Homo sapiens: one gene and its partner. Each later gene encodes a partner of the first gene's protein in a complex. Each region holds a gene or a part of one and is shown on either strand. Other genes may lie near its edges.

Region 1 (7,279 bases):
ATTCATGGAAGATAATTCAAATTCAATCTTCCTTGAATGAAAAGGATACATATATATGTAAGTATATGAAAGCATAGGCTCAACTTAAGAGGCCGTGTTGAAATTTAGTAAATATCTAAATCTACATGAAACATGTTTCAGAAATCACCTGGTAATGTTTAAAATGATTAAGGGTGAAAACCATGCAGACTGTCATAAAGAAACAGTACCTAAATATCTCAGATATCATCTATGTCTTAGTATCTGTGGATTTCATGTAAGTAACAATGCCAATATTAGTCCAGACCCAAAACAGTTAAATTGGAAGTTCACTGAGACAGGCTACCTCTAAATAAAATTCAAAAATAGTTCTTAAGACAGAGAGCTAACAGCTAAAAGGCTTGTACTCTGGAGGTGGAAAATGTCGAGATCTTTAAATGTTAGAGAATCATATCTTGGTTTGACAGATCTAGCTAATCTTAAAAGGGCAACTTTCCATTTGAATACTAAGCAGGAGTTTATGGCCCAACCTCATGCAGATACAGAACTATGCATTTATTGTTTGCTAGAAGAGGCTGTGGGATGCTAAGAGAAGAAATGATATACTGTAATACTCTGGGATTTTCCTCAGGTAAGAAGCTTAACATGATTAAAGATGAACACTTTTGTTTTTCAAAGGGACTCTAATCAAAATGGCACAGTTATTTCACTGTAGTCTATAGAATTGCACACTACAGAATATTTATAATATTAAACCACAGTACATCGATGGGTGCATTTTAAATATTATCATTGGAAAGAGAAGCAATGAATATTTTATACTTCTCTCCCAACCTAATTCATCTACCAGGCTAACACAGGCTCTCACCATGAAAGATCAGAAGAACACATTCATCCACTCTCATCCACACCTTAAGCCTAGGTCCTCCTTACACTTTATTCAAGAGACAGCTCCATGGTGCTACAGAGGTTTTATTGCACTCATATTCTGTAGACTTTTTATGCTTTTATTTTGAAGTATACTTTACTATTGCATTCTCTTACCTCTCCTACACTTTCTTCACAAACGCTGACCCACACTGATATTCTCTGGATGCTGCATAATGACCAAGTGACCCACAGATGAGTCTAATCAAGGCAATTCTGCTTGGATTACTTAAAGGGAAGGTGCTCTTTCCAAGGATAAGGTGAAAAGATAAGTCAGAGTAAGGGATTTAAAGAACGAATCCTTTTTACTTCCTCAAGAAACTAAATGTAACGGAAAGGCACAGTAGCTTATGCCTGTAATCCCAGCACTTTGGGAGGCTGAAGCGGGAGGATCACTTGAGGTCAGGTGTTTGAGACCAGCCTGGCCGACATGGTGAAACCCCATCTCTACTAAAAATAAAAACAATAAAAATAAATGGCCAGGTGTGGTGGTGTGTGCCTGTAATCCCAGCTACTCGGGAGGCTGAGACAGAAGAATCACTTGAATCTGGGAGGCAGTTGCGGTGAGCTGAGATTACGCCACTGCACTCCAGCCTAGGCAACAAAGCAAGACTCTGTCTCAAAAAAAAAAAAGAAACTCAATGTACTAAATATACATGGGAGAATATCAAATTGGTAAGGAGAGCAATTATCCACAGCAAATGTCAAACACTCAATGGAAAAAACAATTTATCCGTAATATTAAGCACCTTAATGTTAGAAGGACCCTTCCAACAGAAGAGGACCCCTCCCCCCAGTCTAAAGGTTACTGGAAGCTAAGTTATTTCACAATTTATAGTGAAGATGTGTGATTTGTTTTCGTTTCTGCTGGAAGAAGCAGAAGGTAAAACAGGCTGGAAAGAAGAAATGGGCAGAAGCGTGTCTGATAAAAAGCTTAGAGATGTGACTGACATCGGTTAAAAATGAACTGGTACTATTTGCCTTTTCAAATCTAATCCTTCACTTAAGCTGCCAAATAAATGTTCTGGGGCCTTTAATCATTGTATCAGGGAAAAATTTCTTTCTTCCAACTTGTGGAGAGGTACTGAAATGTATCCTTTCTCTGCAAAATTTAATAGAGTTAAAATTCTCTTCAAAGAGATGAAATCTAACCCTAGGTTTCATTAAAATGACCTAGCTCTTCTTCATTGTGATATATCAAAATGAAACACTGCTTCAGAGTCAAGGGGAACAAGGATACAGTTTTTGTTCTGAAAGTTAGATCTTTGATATATGATGAAATAGCATTTCAATAAAGTGAAGAATAAAAGGAAAAAAGCCATCAGTTGAGTAAAGAACTAAAAACATTTGTCTATAGTTTTGGTTTGCTTTTAGAAAAGATAATTAATGCTGTAGAGAACTTACTGAACTAATATTCTGCTGATTTTTCTTCACTCGTTCGATCTCTGGGCTATCTTTCACTGCAGTGCCAGCTCCCACTTCTTTCTTATAAAATACCTTTATTATAAGAAAAGGAAAAGAATAACTAAGCTTGTCAGAATTCAAGTCCTAGATCCGCTTCTTAGAAAGACAATTTCTCAGGTTTTATAATAATATGAATACTGCATCTATTTATGAGTGCCGGAATTATAGGAACAAATTAAATAATCCATTCAGATAATCCATGAAAACTTTGGTTTTATATCCCATAATCTCACAAATAACCCTCTCCTGCTCTAGGTCTAGACCACTACCATGGCTGACTGCAGATTATTTGCTTTAAGAATACACATTGGCAAACCAGAGTTCCTTTCTTCAAATATAAATATATGTCCCATGTGTATTTGAGAAAAAGCAGATATTACAAAAGCCCATTAAGCCGTTATCACTGAATTCAAAAAGAAAATGACATTTTAGGCAACTTCTATGCTCCAAACACAAGGATGCCCACATTCTCTTCCAAGAAAATGTTAGCTCATCATCAATATCAATGTTAATTTCAAGTCTATCTTCTTCATCTTCCACTTATTTGTTAACCCTCTCCCATGTGTCTCCACCCCTACTAACGTCTACCCTTCCAAACCCAAAGCAGAACAAAAACACAAGAGTATTTATGAGTGCCCTCGTTATGAGTACTCTGCAGAAAAACAGAGTAATTATAAGAAAGGTAAATGAGGATAGAATTACTCCCTTTCTTGACATTTGGTAATCCAGTGGCCCCCGCGTGGGTGGGAGAGCACGGTAGGAGAGATGTTTTCCTCCAAAGGCTAGAACTACAGAACACTATAGAATCACACAGCCTCTTTTCCTCATCCTTCCATCAAGACTTTCCCATTTCTCAGTACAGCCTGGCCATCCCTGTGGAGACCCAGCAGACATCTGACCAGCTTACTCTGAGAGCTGGCGCTTGCCAACTAATTAGGAGGTAGGAAATATTCCAGAAGTCCTCACACTTACTAGAATTTATATTTTGATGAGATGCTTCCTTAACTATTAATGACTGAGCTAATTCTATGTTAAAATATTAGTTGTATGGTCAATTTTTACAATTTTAGAACAGAAGTCAAGTTTATACATTTATTAATGGACTCAGCCTCTTAATTAATAGTGCTGATGCACTATTTACAATAGGAAAGACATGGAATCAACCTGAATGCCCATCAATGATAGACTGGATAAAGAAAATGTGGTACATATACACCACAGAATACCATGCAGTCATAAAAAAGAATGAGATCATGGCCTTTGCAGGGACATGGATGGAGCTAGATGCCATTATACTTAGCAAACTAATGCAGGAACAGAAAACCAAATACCGCATTTTCTCACTTATAAGTGGGAGCTAAATGATGAGAACACATGGACACACAGAGGCGAACAACACACACAGGGGCCTATCAGAGGGTGAAGAAGGAGGGGAGGGAGAGGATCAGAAAAAATAACTAATGGGTACTAGGCTTAACACCTGCGTGACAAAATAATCGTACAACAAACCCCTATGACACAAGTTTACCTATGTAAAAACCTGCACAGGTACCCCCAAACTTAAAATAAAAGTTAAAAAAAAAAGTGCTGATGCAATTCCTCTTCCTCAAAATAAAAATATAGAAGTTTAGAAATTTATTAAGAATGAGTAAATGGTTAGACATATTATCAGTAAAAACAATCAATAACCAGGAATAAAATCACTTCATATGACTATTTTCACCTTCAAAGTAAAATCTGTGTAGAAGACAGACTTCTTTCCTGAGTTAAATTTTAAAATTTAGTTAATAACTGTCATTTATACCGAAGAGGAAATTTTGAATTTGTAATTCCAAAAAAATAATGAAAAATGATAATTTGTAAAAATTATCAGTATTCTTATTATTTTAAAGAAATAAAGATAATACACTTGACAGAAAATTCAACTAAGACAGCAGAAAACATCAGACAATGAGGAAAAAAGACCATTTCTTACAAAACAAAATTTCAAGGTGGCAACTTAAAAGAAGTAATGGCTACTCACCGCACTAATGTTTTGTTGAGTTGTCTTAATTCTCTGAATTTCAGGAGTATCTGCTATGGTAGAATAGTTAGAAAGCATCTTCTCTGCTTCATCTTTATACTTTCTCTAAAAACATAAACAGTTAATATAAATCTGAAACTATGTGTGTGCGCACATGTGAGAGGGAGGGAGGGAGGCAGGAAAGGAGGAAGGGAGAGAGAGAGAGTAAAAAACTGTTTTTACTGACTTACACTCCCAGAGAGAGAGAGAGAGAGGTGGAGAGACAGAGATAGAATGATACCATTCTTCGATCTCTACCATACGACATGGCTTCTAGATTTACGCTTTGCTTCCTACTTCATGTGAAGATAGATTTGATTAAGGGAAAGTTAACAGTATTTTGAAGTTGAGATTAAAATCTTAATTTTCTCTCCACTAAATGAGCTACTATGAGCTCTAATACAACCCAGGCAATATCTTATCCTAGTACCAGCACTTACATTGTACTTACTATGTAATGGGTATTGTTCTAAATACTTAACACACACTAACTCATTTAATCAACCTGACAAGCAGATACTATTATTATTTCCATCTTACAGATGGAGAAACTGAAGTACTAGATAGTAAGTATCAGAGCCTCAACTTAAAACCAGGCTCTCTGATTCCAAAATCAGTGAAGTTAATTATTCTGGCAAACTACTTAAGAAAATGTGGCACATATACACCATGGAATACTATGCAGCCATAAAAAATGATGAGTTCATGTCCTTTGTAGGGACATGGATGAAATTGGAAATCATCATTCTCAGTAAACTATTGCAAGAACAAAAAACCAAACACTGCATATTCTCACTCATAGGTGGGAATTGAACAATGAGAACACATGGACACAGGAAGGGGAACATCACACTCTGGGGACTGTTGTGGGGTAGGGGGAGGGGGGAGGGATAGCATTAGGAGATATACCTAATGCTAGATGACGAGTTAGTGGGTGCAGCGCACCAGCATAGCACATGTATACATATGTAACTAACCTGCACATTGTACACATGTACCCTGAAACTTAAAGTATAATAATAATAAAATTAAAAAAAAAGAAAGGTAACTACTATTCATGTTGAAATGCACCAGGCTTCATTACACCCTCGTAAGTATCCCAATTGTATTTCAGTGATTAAAATCCCTTAAAATTAGATATATTCTCACACCACACTAAAAAAAAATCTATGCTGTTGAGTTAATGCAGGAAATCTGACAGCTCAGGCACCTTCACTCTCAATACTTTTACTTTCAGGTGTATATATCATGGTTGTAATACTATATTTACATGATTATTAGATTTATCTGTAGCTTTCCAAGAGCAAAGCCATGTCTAGTTTTGCCTGCAAATGGGTGCTCAGGAGGTATTTACCTACTGAAGGAATGAATTTGGCATTCTTGAGAGAGTAAGTAACTCTTCTCCACTGACTCAAATGTCTATTTGTTGTTTAATGCATTGACTTAGGATTTTAGTTAAGCTGATATGGCCAAGCCAATGTCTCCAAGTTCACGAACACTGAGAACAGAACACACACTTCAGGATCATCCCAGCGGCTGTGTCGGCTGCGGAGGCTGAGAGGCACACAAGTCCTCTGACATTTGACTCTGCCATCTTGATACTACCCTTTTGAACTAGTGGATGGTTAATGTCCTTGCTTATGTCTTAATCAGAATTTTAACAAATTTCACCAAATGTTGTTACACAATCCTTTCTGCATAAACTCCATTAATCAAATTAAATGCTATGGTCAATTTTAAATAACCATTTTCATTTTTTTCATTCCTTCTATTTTTTTCCATTGGGAGTCATTCTTTTTTAGTAAATGTTACAGCAAAGATATTATTTGCTAATGAATGTTTTTGCCCAAGTCAGATTTTATAAATAAATTCTTCTTCCATAAATTTTTGTGGTCACTACTTCTCCCACATCCAGCTTTGTTTACAGAATATGGGACAAGTATATTTGACAAATCTAAATTTTACCAAGAAAACCTCACTGTTCCCTTAATTTTTACCTAACACTAAACTTCACTTTATACCTTGTGCAGCTTTAGCCACTGTTAGCTTTATTTGGAACTATTTTAATATTAATATTCATTATGAAATGGTTAAAAGACAAAACGTTTGTAATTTATTTTTCTGTAGTATTAGCAAAAGCATTTGAGCCAAGTGTCCAATAGGGTCAAAAAAAAAAAAAGAAAGAAAGAAAAGGTTAAAATATCCTTGGGCTGGGCACAATGGCTCATGCCCACTGAGGCAGGAAGATAAGCTTGAGCCCAGGAGTTTGAGGCTGCAGCAAGCTATGATGGTGCCACTGCATTCCAGCCTGGGTGAAAGAGTGAGACCTCCATCTCTAAAATTTAAAAAAAAAAAAAAAAAAAAAAAGGTTTAATGTCCTTGGACTCAAAACAAGGAGCCCCGACAGAGAGGCTGTAGCTCTCCATAATGTCTGTTGCATTGAATCTATGACTGTTGTCCTATTAATTAGTACGGTTAATCAAGTTTGGCCAATGGTTTCTTAGTGAAAGAGTACACTAGCTCTGAATGCAATGCCCTCAGAAAGATATCATTCATAGAGACATACAAAGCACATGGCAACATGACATTGGAATACACGATTCTGAGCATCTTCATTCATGACCAACCTGGCTATAGATTTCAGATGTCCTCTTGGCTCGAAGGATATCTGGGATATCCATGCTCACTTGCATTCCTTTCCCTTTAATTTCATTTTCTAAGTCCTTCTTGTATTGTTTCTAAAAGAACAGAAAATAATCTTAGAGCTTTGCTTAAGCTTTAATAGCGATGTTGAAATTTACATGTTTGAATCTCAAAGCCACCCATGTGGAAAGAAAACTTATGCTC
Region 2 (8,273 bases), on another chromosome or scaffold:
CAAAAGACAACAACTGAAAGTGTTTTTCCAAATAAAGCAAGTAATTGATCTTTTCTGGGAGGGAAATTTTAATTAGTTTTGGCAGATAGTTGCTCAATATCTATCTGATAAGAATGTGAAAGAAATTAGTTAAGAGATTCAAAGAAATGGCATTTTCAATATTAAGGAAAAAACTTAACTAAAGCTTTATTATTATATATTGTCAATTACATTAACTTCTCCAGCTATGCTAGGTTTATCAGAACAATTAATTTTTCTGCCAAAAATGTAGCTAACATAGTACATTACTTAATTTCCCACTAATAGGATGCATGCATAATTCATATATGTAAAAAAGAGATAGGAACAATGCATTTGTTTATTTTTCTTTCTTTTATCTCCACATTCACATTTATTAAGTGAACCAGCTAAGGCACCTTGCTAAGACAAGTTATTAGAAGAATTTATGAAGTTGTATATTTGCAATAAGCTTATCTTACCGCCATGTCTTTTTCTGTCAAATTTCTGTCCTGTGACTCAGCTACCACAGTCACGTATCCATTAAAGGAAAACACAAATTTAACAGTTCTTTAACTTACTGATCTCATCTAACTAATGAACATCAAGCATGATGGACATACGTCGCCAGATAGCAGCTACAAGACACCAAATCTCTCATAGCCAGCTCTGGGAGCTGCATTATTTAGTAAGTCATGGAAGAGAGAAGTGCACCCTCAACCATAACCCCTGTTTGTGCTAGGTACTCAGCTTACAAGTTTACTCGTTAAAGGCTGATTGAAGCAGCTTTTGTTTCCAAATTCTATAGAAAAATAAACTCATCCTTAGTAAAAGGACCCATCTCAGAGTCCCAGAAAACTGTCTGGAGGATATGGGTAATTAGTATTTAACAAAAGAAGAAATTTGTTAAATATTTCATGGATTATCCCAAGCAGGCTGCGTACCAGACAATACCTGTTATTTAGGACAAAGCTGATGATCTGTCATATCAGCTTCTGCTACACCCACATACAGAATACATCTGTAATAAAAGAAGCATGCAAAATTTGCTCTCATGAAATTTCAAATATGAATCTCAGTGTGAATAATAAAAATAAAAACAAACTTTTAGAGTTTACTATTGAGAGCTGTCAAAGAATTATAAAACATAAATCCAGACTTCAGGGATTTACAGTCTGTTCAGATGCTCTGGTTCTCACCTTTTCTGTGCACCAACATCATCTGAGATGTCCTTAGCACTGCAGATTCTTAAGGGCCCACTCGGGGAGTTTCAGCTAGTTTCAAGGTCTGGAATTTGAACTGGGAACTGGCCTTCTTAGAAAGCACCAAGAGGTGATTCTGATGCCCGAAGCCTATGAACCCACAGTTAAAAAATAAAACTTAGGGGCCAGGCACGGTGGCTCATGCCTGTAATCCCAGCAGTTTGGGAGGCTGAGGTGGGAGGATCATGAGGTCAGAAGATTGAGACCATCCTGGCTAACACGGTGAAACCCCATCTCTACTAAAAAACAAAAAAATAGCCAGCATGGTGGCACGTGCCTGTAATACCAGCTACTCAGGAGGCTGAGGCAGGAGAATCGCTTGAACCTGGGAGGTGGACGTTGCAGTGAGCCGAGATCACACCACTATGCTCCAGTCTGGGTGACAGAGCAAGACTCTGTCTCAAATAAAATAAAATAAAATAAAACTAAAAAGTAAATAAAACTTAGCTACATCAACAGAAATATTAATGAACTGGAGAAGACACAACACCATTCATTAATTCAATACCTGCTTGAGGATTGCTTGCTATGGAGAAGAATAACAAGGAGAAGAAGGTGGAGATGGGGCTTACCCCAAAAAGGGGAAGAAATCTAGACTTATGAGAGAATGAAAATGAAGAAAATGACTACCAGCAAAAGCACAAAGGCATGGAAGGACTCATCAACATCAAGAACCCCAAGCAGGTAGGATAGACAACCAGAAAGGTCAAACAAGTGGATCTGGACAGGCTAAAGGAGCTTTTAAGGAGAAAATGCACTAGCAGGAGAGACAGAGCAAGCCAAGGTGGGCCTTGCCTGGCTGGTGATCATCTGGAAACAGTGGGAGAAGGCTGCAAGGAAGAAGGAAGTGGAGAGGAAAGCAAAATATGGTGCCACATTGTTGGGAAAATGAACATGGTTGCTCCCCTTGAATAAATAAACGCCACCTGCAGGAGGAGAGGCCAGGGACCTGGGCCAGAACCTCTGCTGTGTCTCACCTACCCTGTGCCCTGGCTCCACTGCAGCAGCCCTTCAAGGCCAGAAGCCCCATGGCCTGGGACATCCTCTTCATCTTGGCACAGAAATTGTTTAGGGAGGTGTCTGGGGGCGAGTGGGGAGAGAGTGGAGGAGGGACAGCTGTCATCTCTGAGATAGAAAGGTGCAGGAAAGCATTTCATATGTAACAATTTGAATGTTTTTTGCTGTTTTTAGAATTCAGAACCCTTGTTGGAGTGCCTAAGAAGTGGGGTAAGAAGAGCTTCCATTTGTCTGCTAGATCACATGTTAGTGGGTGGTTGTGCCAGGAGGCAGCTGCTGAGGGGTTTGCAACAACCACCCTGGTCTGTGTGCCTGAATGCTTATTCAGAATGGGGCTGTCAGCTGCAGGCTCATGCCCTTGGGTCCCTGAGGGTCATGGCTTTGTCCCTGGCGAGTCCTCTCTGACCTGACTCAATGGAACGAAGGAAGAAAGGAGAATTGCCCAGATGCTTTCTTTGGGTGATGCTGTTTTTGTTAAATTTCTTCCCCAGAAGTCCCTGACTATCTTTCAGTGTCCAAAAATATAATATATAGCCAAACTTACGTGTTTTGAGTCTGAGAGATTAACTATTTTTTCTCTGGGCACATTGCTGCCCCAGATTAAATTGTTTCTTAGTTAGAAAAACAAATGAATAACTAGAGATTCTAGCAGCAGTGTCTGTCACTAAGCGCTAGCCTGAATTTGTTGATGATGCTGTGATTCTATGCTAATTTAATGTATATTACTTAAAAGAAATAGGGAGAGAGAGGCAAAATAGTGTCCTGTCAGAAACTATCAAAGAGAAGCATGTATGTGTAGAAAAAATTATGAAAGAAGTGGTTTTTCTTAGGAAAATCTTACCTTTTTTCTACATGTCCCAGTCCCTACCAGATGTTCCCTTTTGTCTGCCTAGAGACCTGCCAGATTTCTCCAAATAATCCTGACTTCCTGGATACACCCACATAGAAACAGGTCGGGTTCTAGAAGAATTTGTCTGCTCCATGTTCCATCAGAATCAGATTATCTCATTATTTTGGAACAAGTTAATCTGCTGCAGATGAATTAATGAATGCTGCTGAGTTAGCTATTATCATTTTTTTCCTACATATTCTTAAAGGTATGTTTTAACCCAAAGACCCATAGTGACCAATGGCTCACTCTATGGCTGAGCTACACTTTAATTATCACTGTGCGTCAGGTTCCATACATATAAAAATAAACCTAATATTTAATTCAAAGTCATTTGTGAGGGGTTGGGACACCTGAGAATTTTGGATAATGATCATGAACATAGAGTCCAGATTCAAACCAAATGGCTTCAAATTCCTACTCAAACACTAGTATATGACATTAGATGCATTATTTAATATATCCAAACATTAGTTTCCTCACTTGAAAATTGGGATGATAATAGTATGTTCTAACTATACTGTTGTGAGATGAACAAAATAAATGAAATCACGCTCATAAAGAACTTAGGATAGTGCTTGGTATGAAGCAAGTGATCAGCGGATGTCAGCTTTTATTAGCAGTATTTAAGTATAGTTATTTGCAACCAAAAAGTGCTTAGCGATATCAGTTATCATCTTCTACAAATTATAGGAGACCACAGCTTCTGAGATAATTTTATTTTATTTTACATATAGTAAGCTATATACTATTTCAAATAAGTAAAGTCTTTCTCTTCGCAGACTCTAATTGCAGAGTCTAATTTGATTCTTATTTGGTCATCTAATAGCTCTTTGTTCCAAACTGGGGTTTTTATATATAAGGGGTTCAGTGATATACTACTAAAGACAATGTTGATTTTTTTGCATAAAGGAATTCAATAGCAGAAATGCATTTTAATATAATAAATTAAATCTTACAACTTTAATCAATGAATTTTCATATATAAAAATGACCATAAATTATATAAATAACTGCAGTGCTTAGCCAGTATTCAAACTGTAGGTTTCAGAAATCTTGTTTGAAAGCTTAAAATATAGGGCAGTTATGATATGGTATTTGGAGACGATACAGGGTGTGATATAAAGGTTCGACTACAAGGCTAATGTTATAAACTGGTCACATTTTGAACTGCAAATTCTGGTGACTTAATTATTTTTCCAAGAGTTTGCCAAAGTCAATAAAGAACAATTAGCTCAACATCTATGAACTTAAAAAGGACTTAGACATTCTGCTATATTAAAAAGACTAAATGCAGTACTTATCTTGGTGTGTTTCTTGTTTCTACTCTGGGAAGATTAAAAAACAGATAACTTTAGAAATTACAGACCTGTCAGCATCAGTATTTAGTTGAAAACTTACTGAAACATATCATCAAAAAATCAATTTTCAAGCACCTAGAAAATCATGAGTTACTGGGTAAAATCTCCTTGGCACTGTGAAAAATAAATCCTGTCAAATCAACTTAATTTCCTTCCACGACAGAGTGACAAAAACAGTAGACACAGAGAACTGGATAGACAAAATATATCCTGACCAAAGTCAGGCAAATTCCACATAACACAGAGAGAAAATACAGTTTGGGTGACATTTTGTCTTTATTAAGTACTCCTATTGAATAACTATGCTGAACATATCTGGAAGTGATACTCAGCTGGAATATTGAACATGTAAGGTGACTGGTTAGATATAAAGATGAGAGCATTCAAGACCAAGTTGTGGCAGGGCTGATTCTCACTATTTTAAACAAAATATTATCGGTAATTATGAGAAACCAAGTAAGAATCAGCATCATTTTGCTACTTCTGTTTTTTTAAAAAAGCAAGATCCCCAACAGAAAAGGATGTGTAGAACTGTAATGCCCACATAATGTTGCGATGGGACTACTGTTGGCACATTTGGGGTTTGGAGGCCCAGGAGAGTGAAGATGAATGGCATGAAATGAGGCATGCCTTTGAGTCAATGCTTCTGACCAGTGAGGGATCCATTTTTACTTCTGAGTCCAAATGTTTTTCCCACAAGAAAAGGTTAATGTATCCCTCTCATCTCCAAAGACTCATTTAACAAAATGACTCGTTTAACAAAATGAAAACAGCATGGACAAATAAGAGAGTGACATTTTTAAGAAACATTGGTATAGTTCCTAAGCAGAAAACCAGAAATCTGTGTGTGCATTAAAATAATAAACCACTTAGTAAAAATAATAATTGATTTTAAAGTGAATTTTGAGGAATCCCTTTAGCAGATATTCAAAGTATTTGGAAATAATGATAAATAACCTGATTTCAGTACATTATCATCCCATCCTAGAAGCTTGTAACAGTGGGAGACAGATGAAGATAGTGAGATTTCAAAGAAAGGGTAGTAGACACTATATCAACAATAAAGTATTTCCTTAGACAAGAGCTTGAAAATAATTTTCATCTCATGTGCCAACTCTAATTTTTAGTTGCCACCTGAGTAGGCTTGAGAAGTTGCACTAGGCCCACTCTAAAGAATAAAGAAGTGCACCAACCATTCAATTTGATGGGGGTGAGATATTTTGCCCATTCCCATGAAGACACAGACAGCAAGTTTATACTGGAGCCTAACTATAGTATTTATATTTGACTACATAATAAATCCATAGCAAGTAGTTGTTCTTGAATATTTGTTTATTCATTCTCAGCTAGGCTTTGGTATCTTTATTAGGACTTAAATTAAAAACTTTCTCCAGGTGTTGTTATACATATCTGATCTGGGTAAACCTACCTGGTTGCTGAAGTTCAGATTCTAATGCACTGAATGTCAACCAGGACCTTTTAGGGAATTGCGTCTTAACAACACTTATTTCTGTTGGGCTGTGCTAAATCATCTAGTCTCAACAATTATTAGATGCTTAGACTTCTCCTACAATACACATGTGGATGGGCCCTCCAGACTGGGTTGGCACATTATTGTAAGAGACTCACTTGTATTTATTAATTCATCAACTTGACACACATGAGATCCAAAATCAACTGGGAAAAAAGTCACTAGTTATTGAATTAAATCCCATGCAGTCTTTTATTCCCCAGGACCTTATATTTTGGTGTGACATTCCAGTGAATTAATTTCTGACTATAATTCATTGTTGAAAGGCTTGGCAGAGGAGTTGTGGAAGTCCAAAGCAAGGGTTTTGAATAAGCTCTCATTTGAAAAATTATATTTCTTGCATTAAACCCAAAATATCTCTGTAATTTTCCCTTTGAGCCTGTTCTAAGCCTTGAGGCCATATAAAACAAGTCTAATCCTTCTTCCACATGAACAAACAATCTTTAAATATTTGAATAAAATTCTAATGGGTCTCTTAAATTTTCTTTTTCTATTCAAGCAAACCATCCACAAATGTACCCTAATATAAATGCTTTTAATTCTTCTAGTCATCATAGTTCTAACCTGTTCACCATCAACAACCAGAATTAGTCATGTATTCTCTCAGCACTTTATAAATTGCTTATTTCTATTCCTTTAATAGACTGAGAAATGTTAAAAGACAGTTAATATTTTGATTCATTTGTGATCTCCTGCATATTTTACATGGGGCCAAAATCAATTGACTTTAACTGAACATAAGGGAAAAGGTTTTAAAAAAATTTGGAAAATAAACATTTGATACCAGATTGTTTGGGAGTATACAGCAATTGCAGTGGCAAGTACAGATTCTTAGGAAAATAAGATATATTGAAGTCCTATTGAAGTCTTTATTGCTAATGCCATGTTTTTACTAGGATTGCTTTCTAACTAACTGTTAAGTAGATTGCAATAGCCCAGAGTGATATTCTGAATATTTAACAACTAGTATCAGATGGACATAATCCTAGTATTAAAGCAGCATCCTGGAAGCATTGACTATATCTTGGGAAAGTTTCGGAGTCACAAGGAGGACATTTACAAAGAATTTCAAAATTATTTTTGATATTTTAAAAATCAGTAAGGCAATCACGGTGACTAATGGCTGAGTAACAGCCTTTGAAACAGAATTTTAGCATTAGTGATTTTAATGGAAGCCCTGAATCAAAATCTCACATTGTCCAGGTCATAAAGGGAAAATGACCCGTTCAAGTTCACAGGATTAGTGACAGAGATAGTATTCAAAATGGCTAAGAATGCCTTAATATTTTCTGCAGCTTGACTATACTTTACAGACTTCTTACTATTGACCCCTGACTCCCTTAGAATATCTACTTTAGAAAACTTTCGATTGCAAATTTTTTGACTCTCTGAATCTTCTCCCAGCTTCTTGCCAATTTTATAACCCAGAAAAGTTTTCTCAAGGACCTACCCTGATGCAGTCATTACACACTGCAGGCTTGTGTCAAAACATCACATGTATCCCATAAATAACATACAACTATTATGTAGTCATATTAAAATATTTTTTAAAAAAATCAAGAAAGATAGCATTCCCATCTCCCAGTCTCTATGGGAAGGTAAGAGCCCAACTTCAGTAAGTGTCAATTAGTAAACACAGATGGCCTAGTCACACTGACCACCTCCCCACTAATGTCCTCCAGTACTTTTCCACCAGTTCACCCCACTATAAAACTCTACCAACTTTTGTTTCAGCAGAGATGCTTTCAATCTCTCTTCCCTAAAGTGATGTCTTAAATAAATCCTTTCTTGCCTGTTCAACTTGTCGAGTGCAATTTTTCTCTGATAGAACCCCCTACATCTTCAAACTCTTGAGCTTTTTTTTTTTTTTTTTTTTTTTTTACAGAGTCTCATTCTGTCACTCAGGCTAGAGTGCAGTGGCGTGACCTCAGCTCACTAAAACCTCTGCCTTCCAGGTTCAAGCGATTCTTATGCCTCAGCCTCCGCTGTAGCTGGGTTTACAGGTGCCTGCCACCAGGCCCAGCTAATTTTTGTATTTTCAGTAGAGATGGGGCTTCACCATGTTGGCTAGGCTGGTCTCAAACTCCTGATCTCAAGTGATCCACCCACCTCGGTCTCCCAAAGTGCTGGGATTACAGGCGTGAGCCACCACACCCGGCGGAAAATCTTGAACTTTTTCTATGATACCATATTTCTTCCTGTTGGTAACTGGAGCT

The links.
Region 2: the proteins of NEBL (region 1) and XIRP2 are in contact, whole or in part, in a crystal structure (PDB 4F14), measured with the Homo sapiens proteins. Residues at the interface, in NP_006384.1 of Homo sapiens: Tyr963, Asp964, Tyr965, Asp969, Asp971, Glu972, Ile987, Asp988, Asp989, Gly990, Trp991, Met1004, Pro1006, Asn1008, Tyr1009; in NP_689594.4 of Homo sapiens: Pro2420, Pro2421, Pro2422, Thr2423, Leu2424, Pro2425, Lys2426, Pro2427.

The regions. Positions count from the first base shown.
Region 1 is NC_000010.11:20,824,137-20,831,415, forward strand, and holds part of NEBL (nebulette), read right to left. Parts: intron 7,171-7,279; coding exon 7,060-7,170; intron 4,499-7,059; coding exon 4,394-4,498; intron 2,404-4,393; coding exon 2,311-2,403; intron 1-2,310. UniProt on the Homo sapiens protein: Binds to actin and plays an important role in the assembly of the Z-disk. May functionally link sarcomeric actin to the desmin intermediate filaments in the heart muscle sarcomeres.
Region 2 is NC_000002.12:166,883,402-166,891,674, reverse strand, and holds the start of XIRP2 (xin actin-binding repeat-containing protein 2), read right to left. Parts: upstream 3,196-8,273; 5' UTR 3,118-3,195; intron 1-3,117.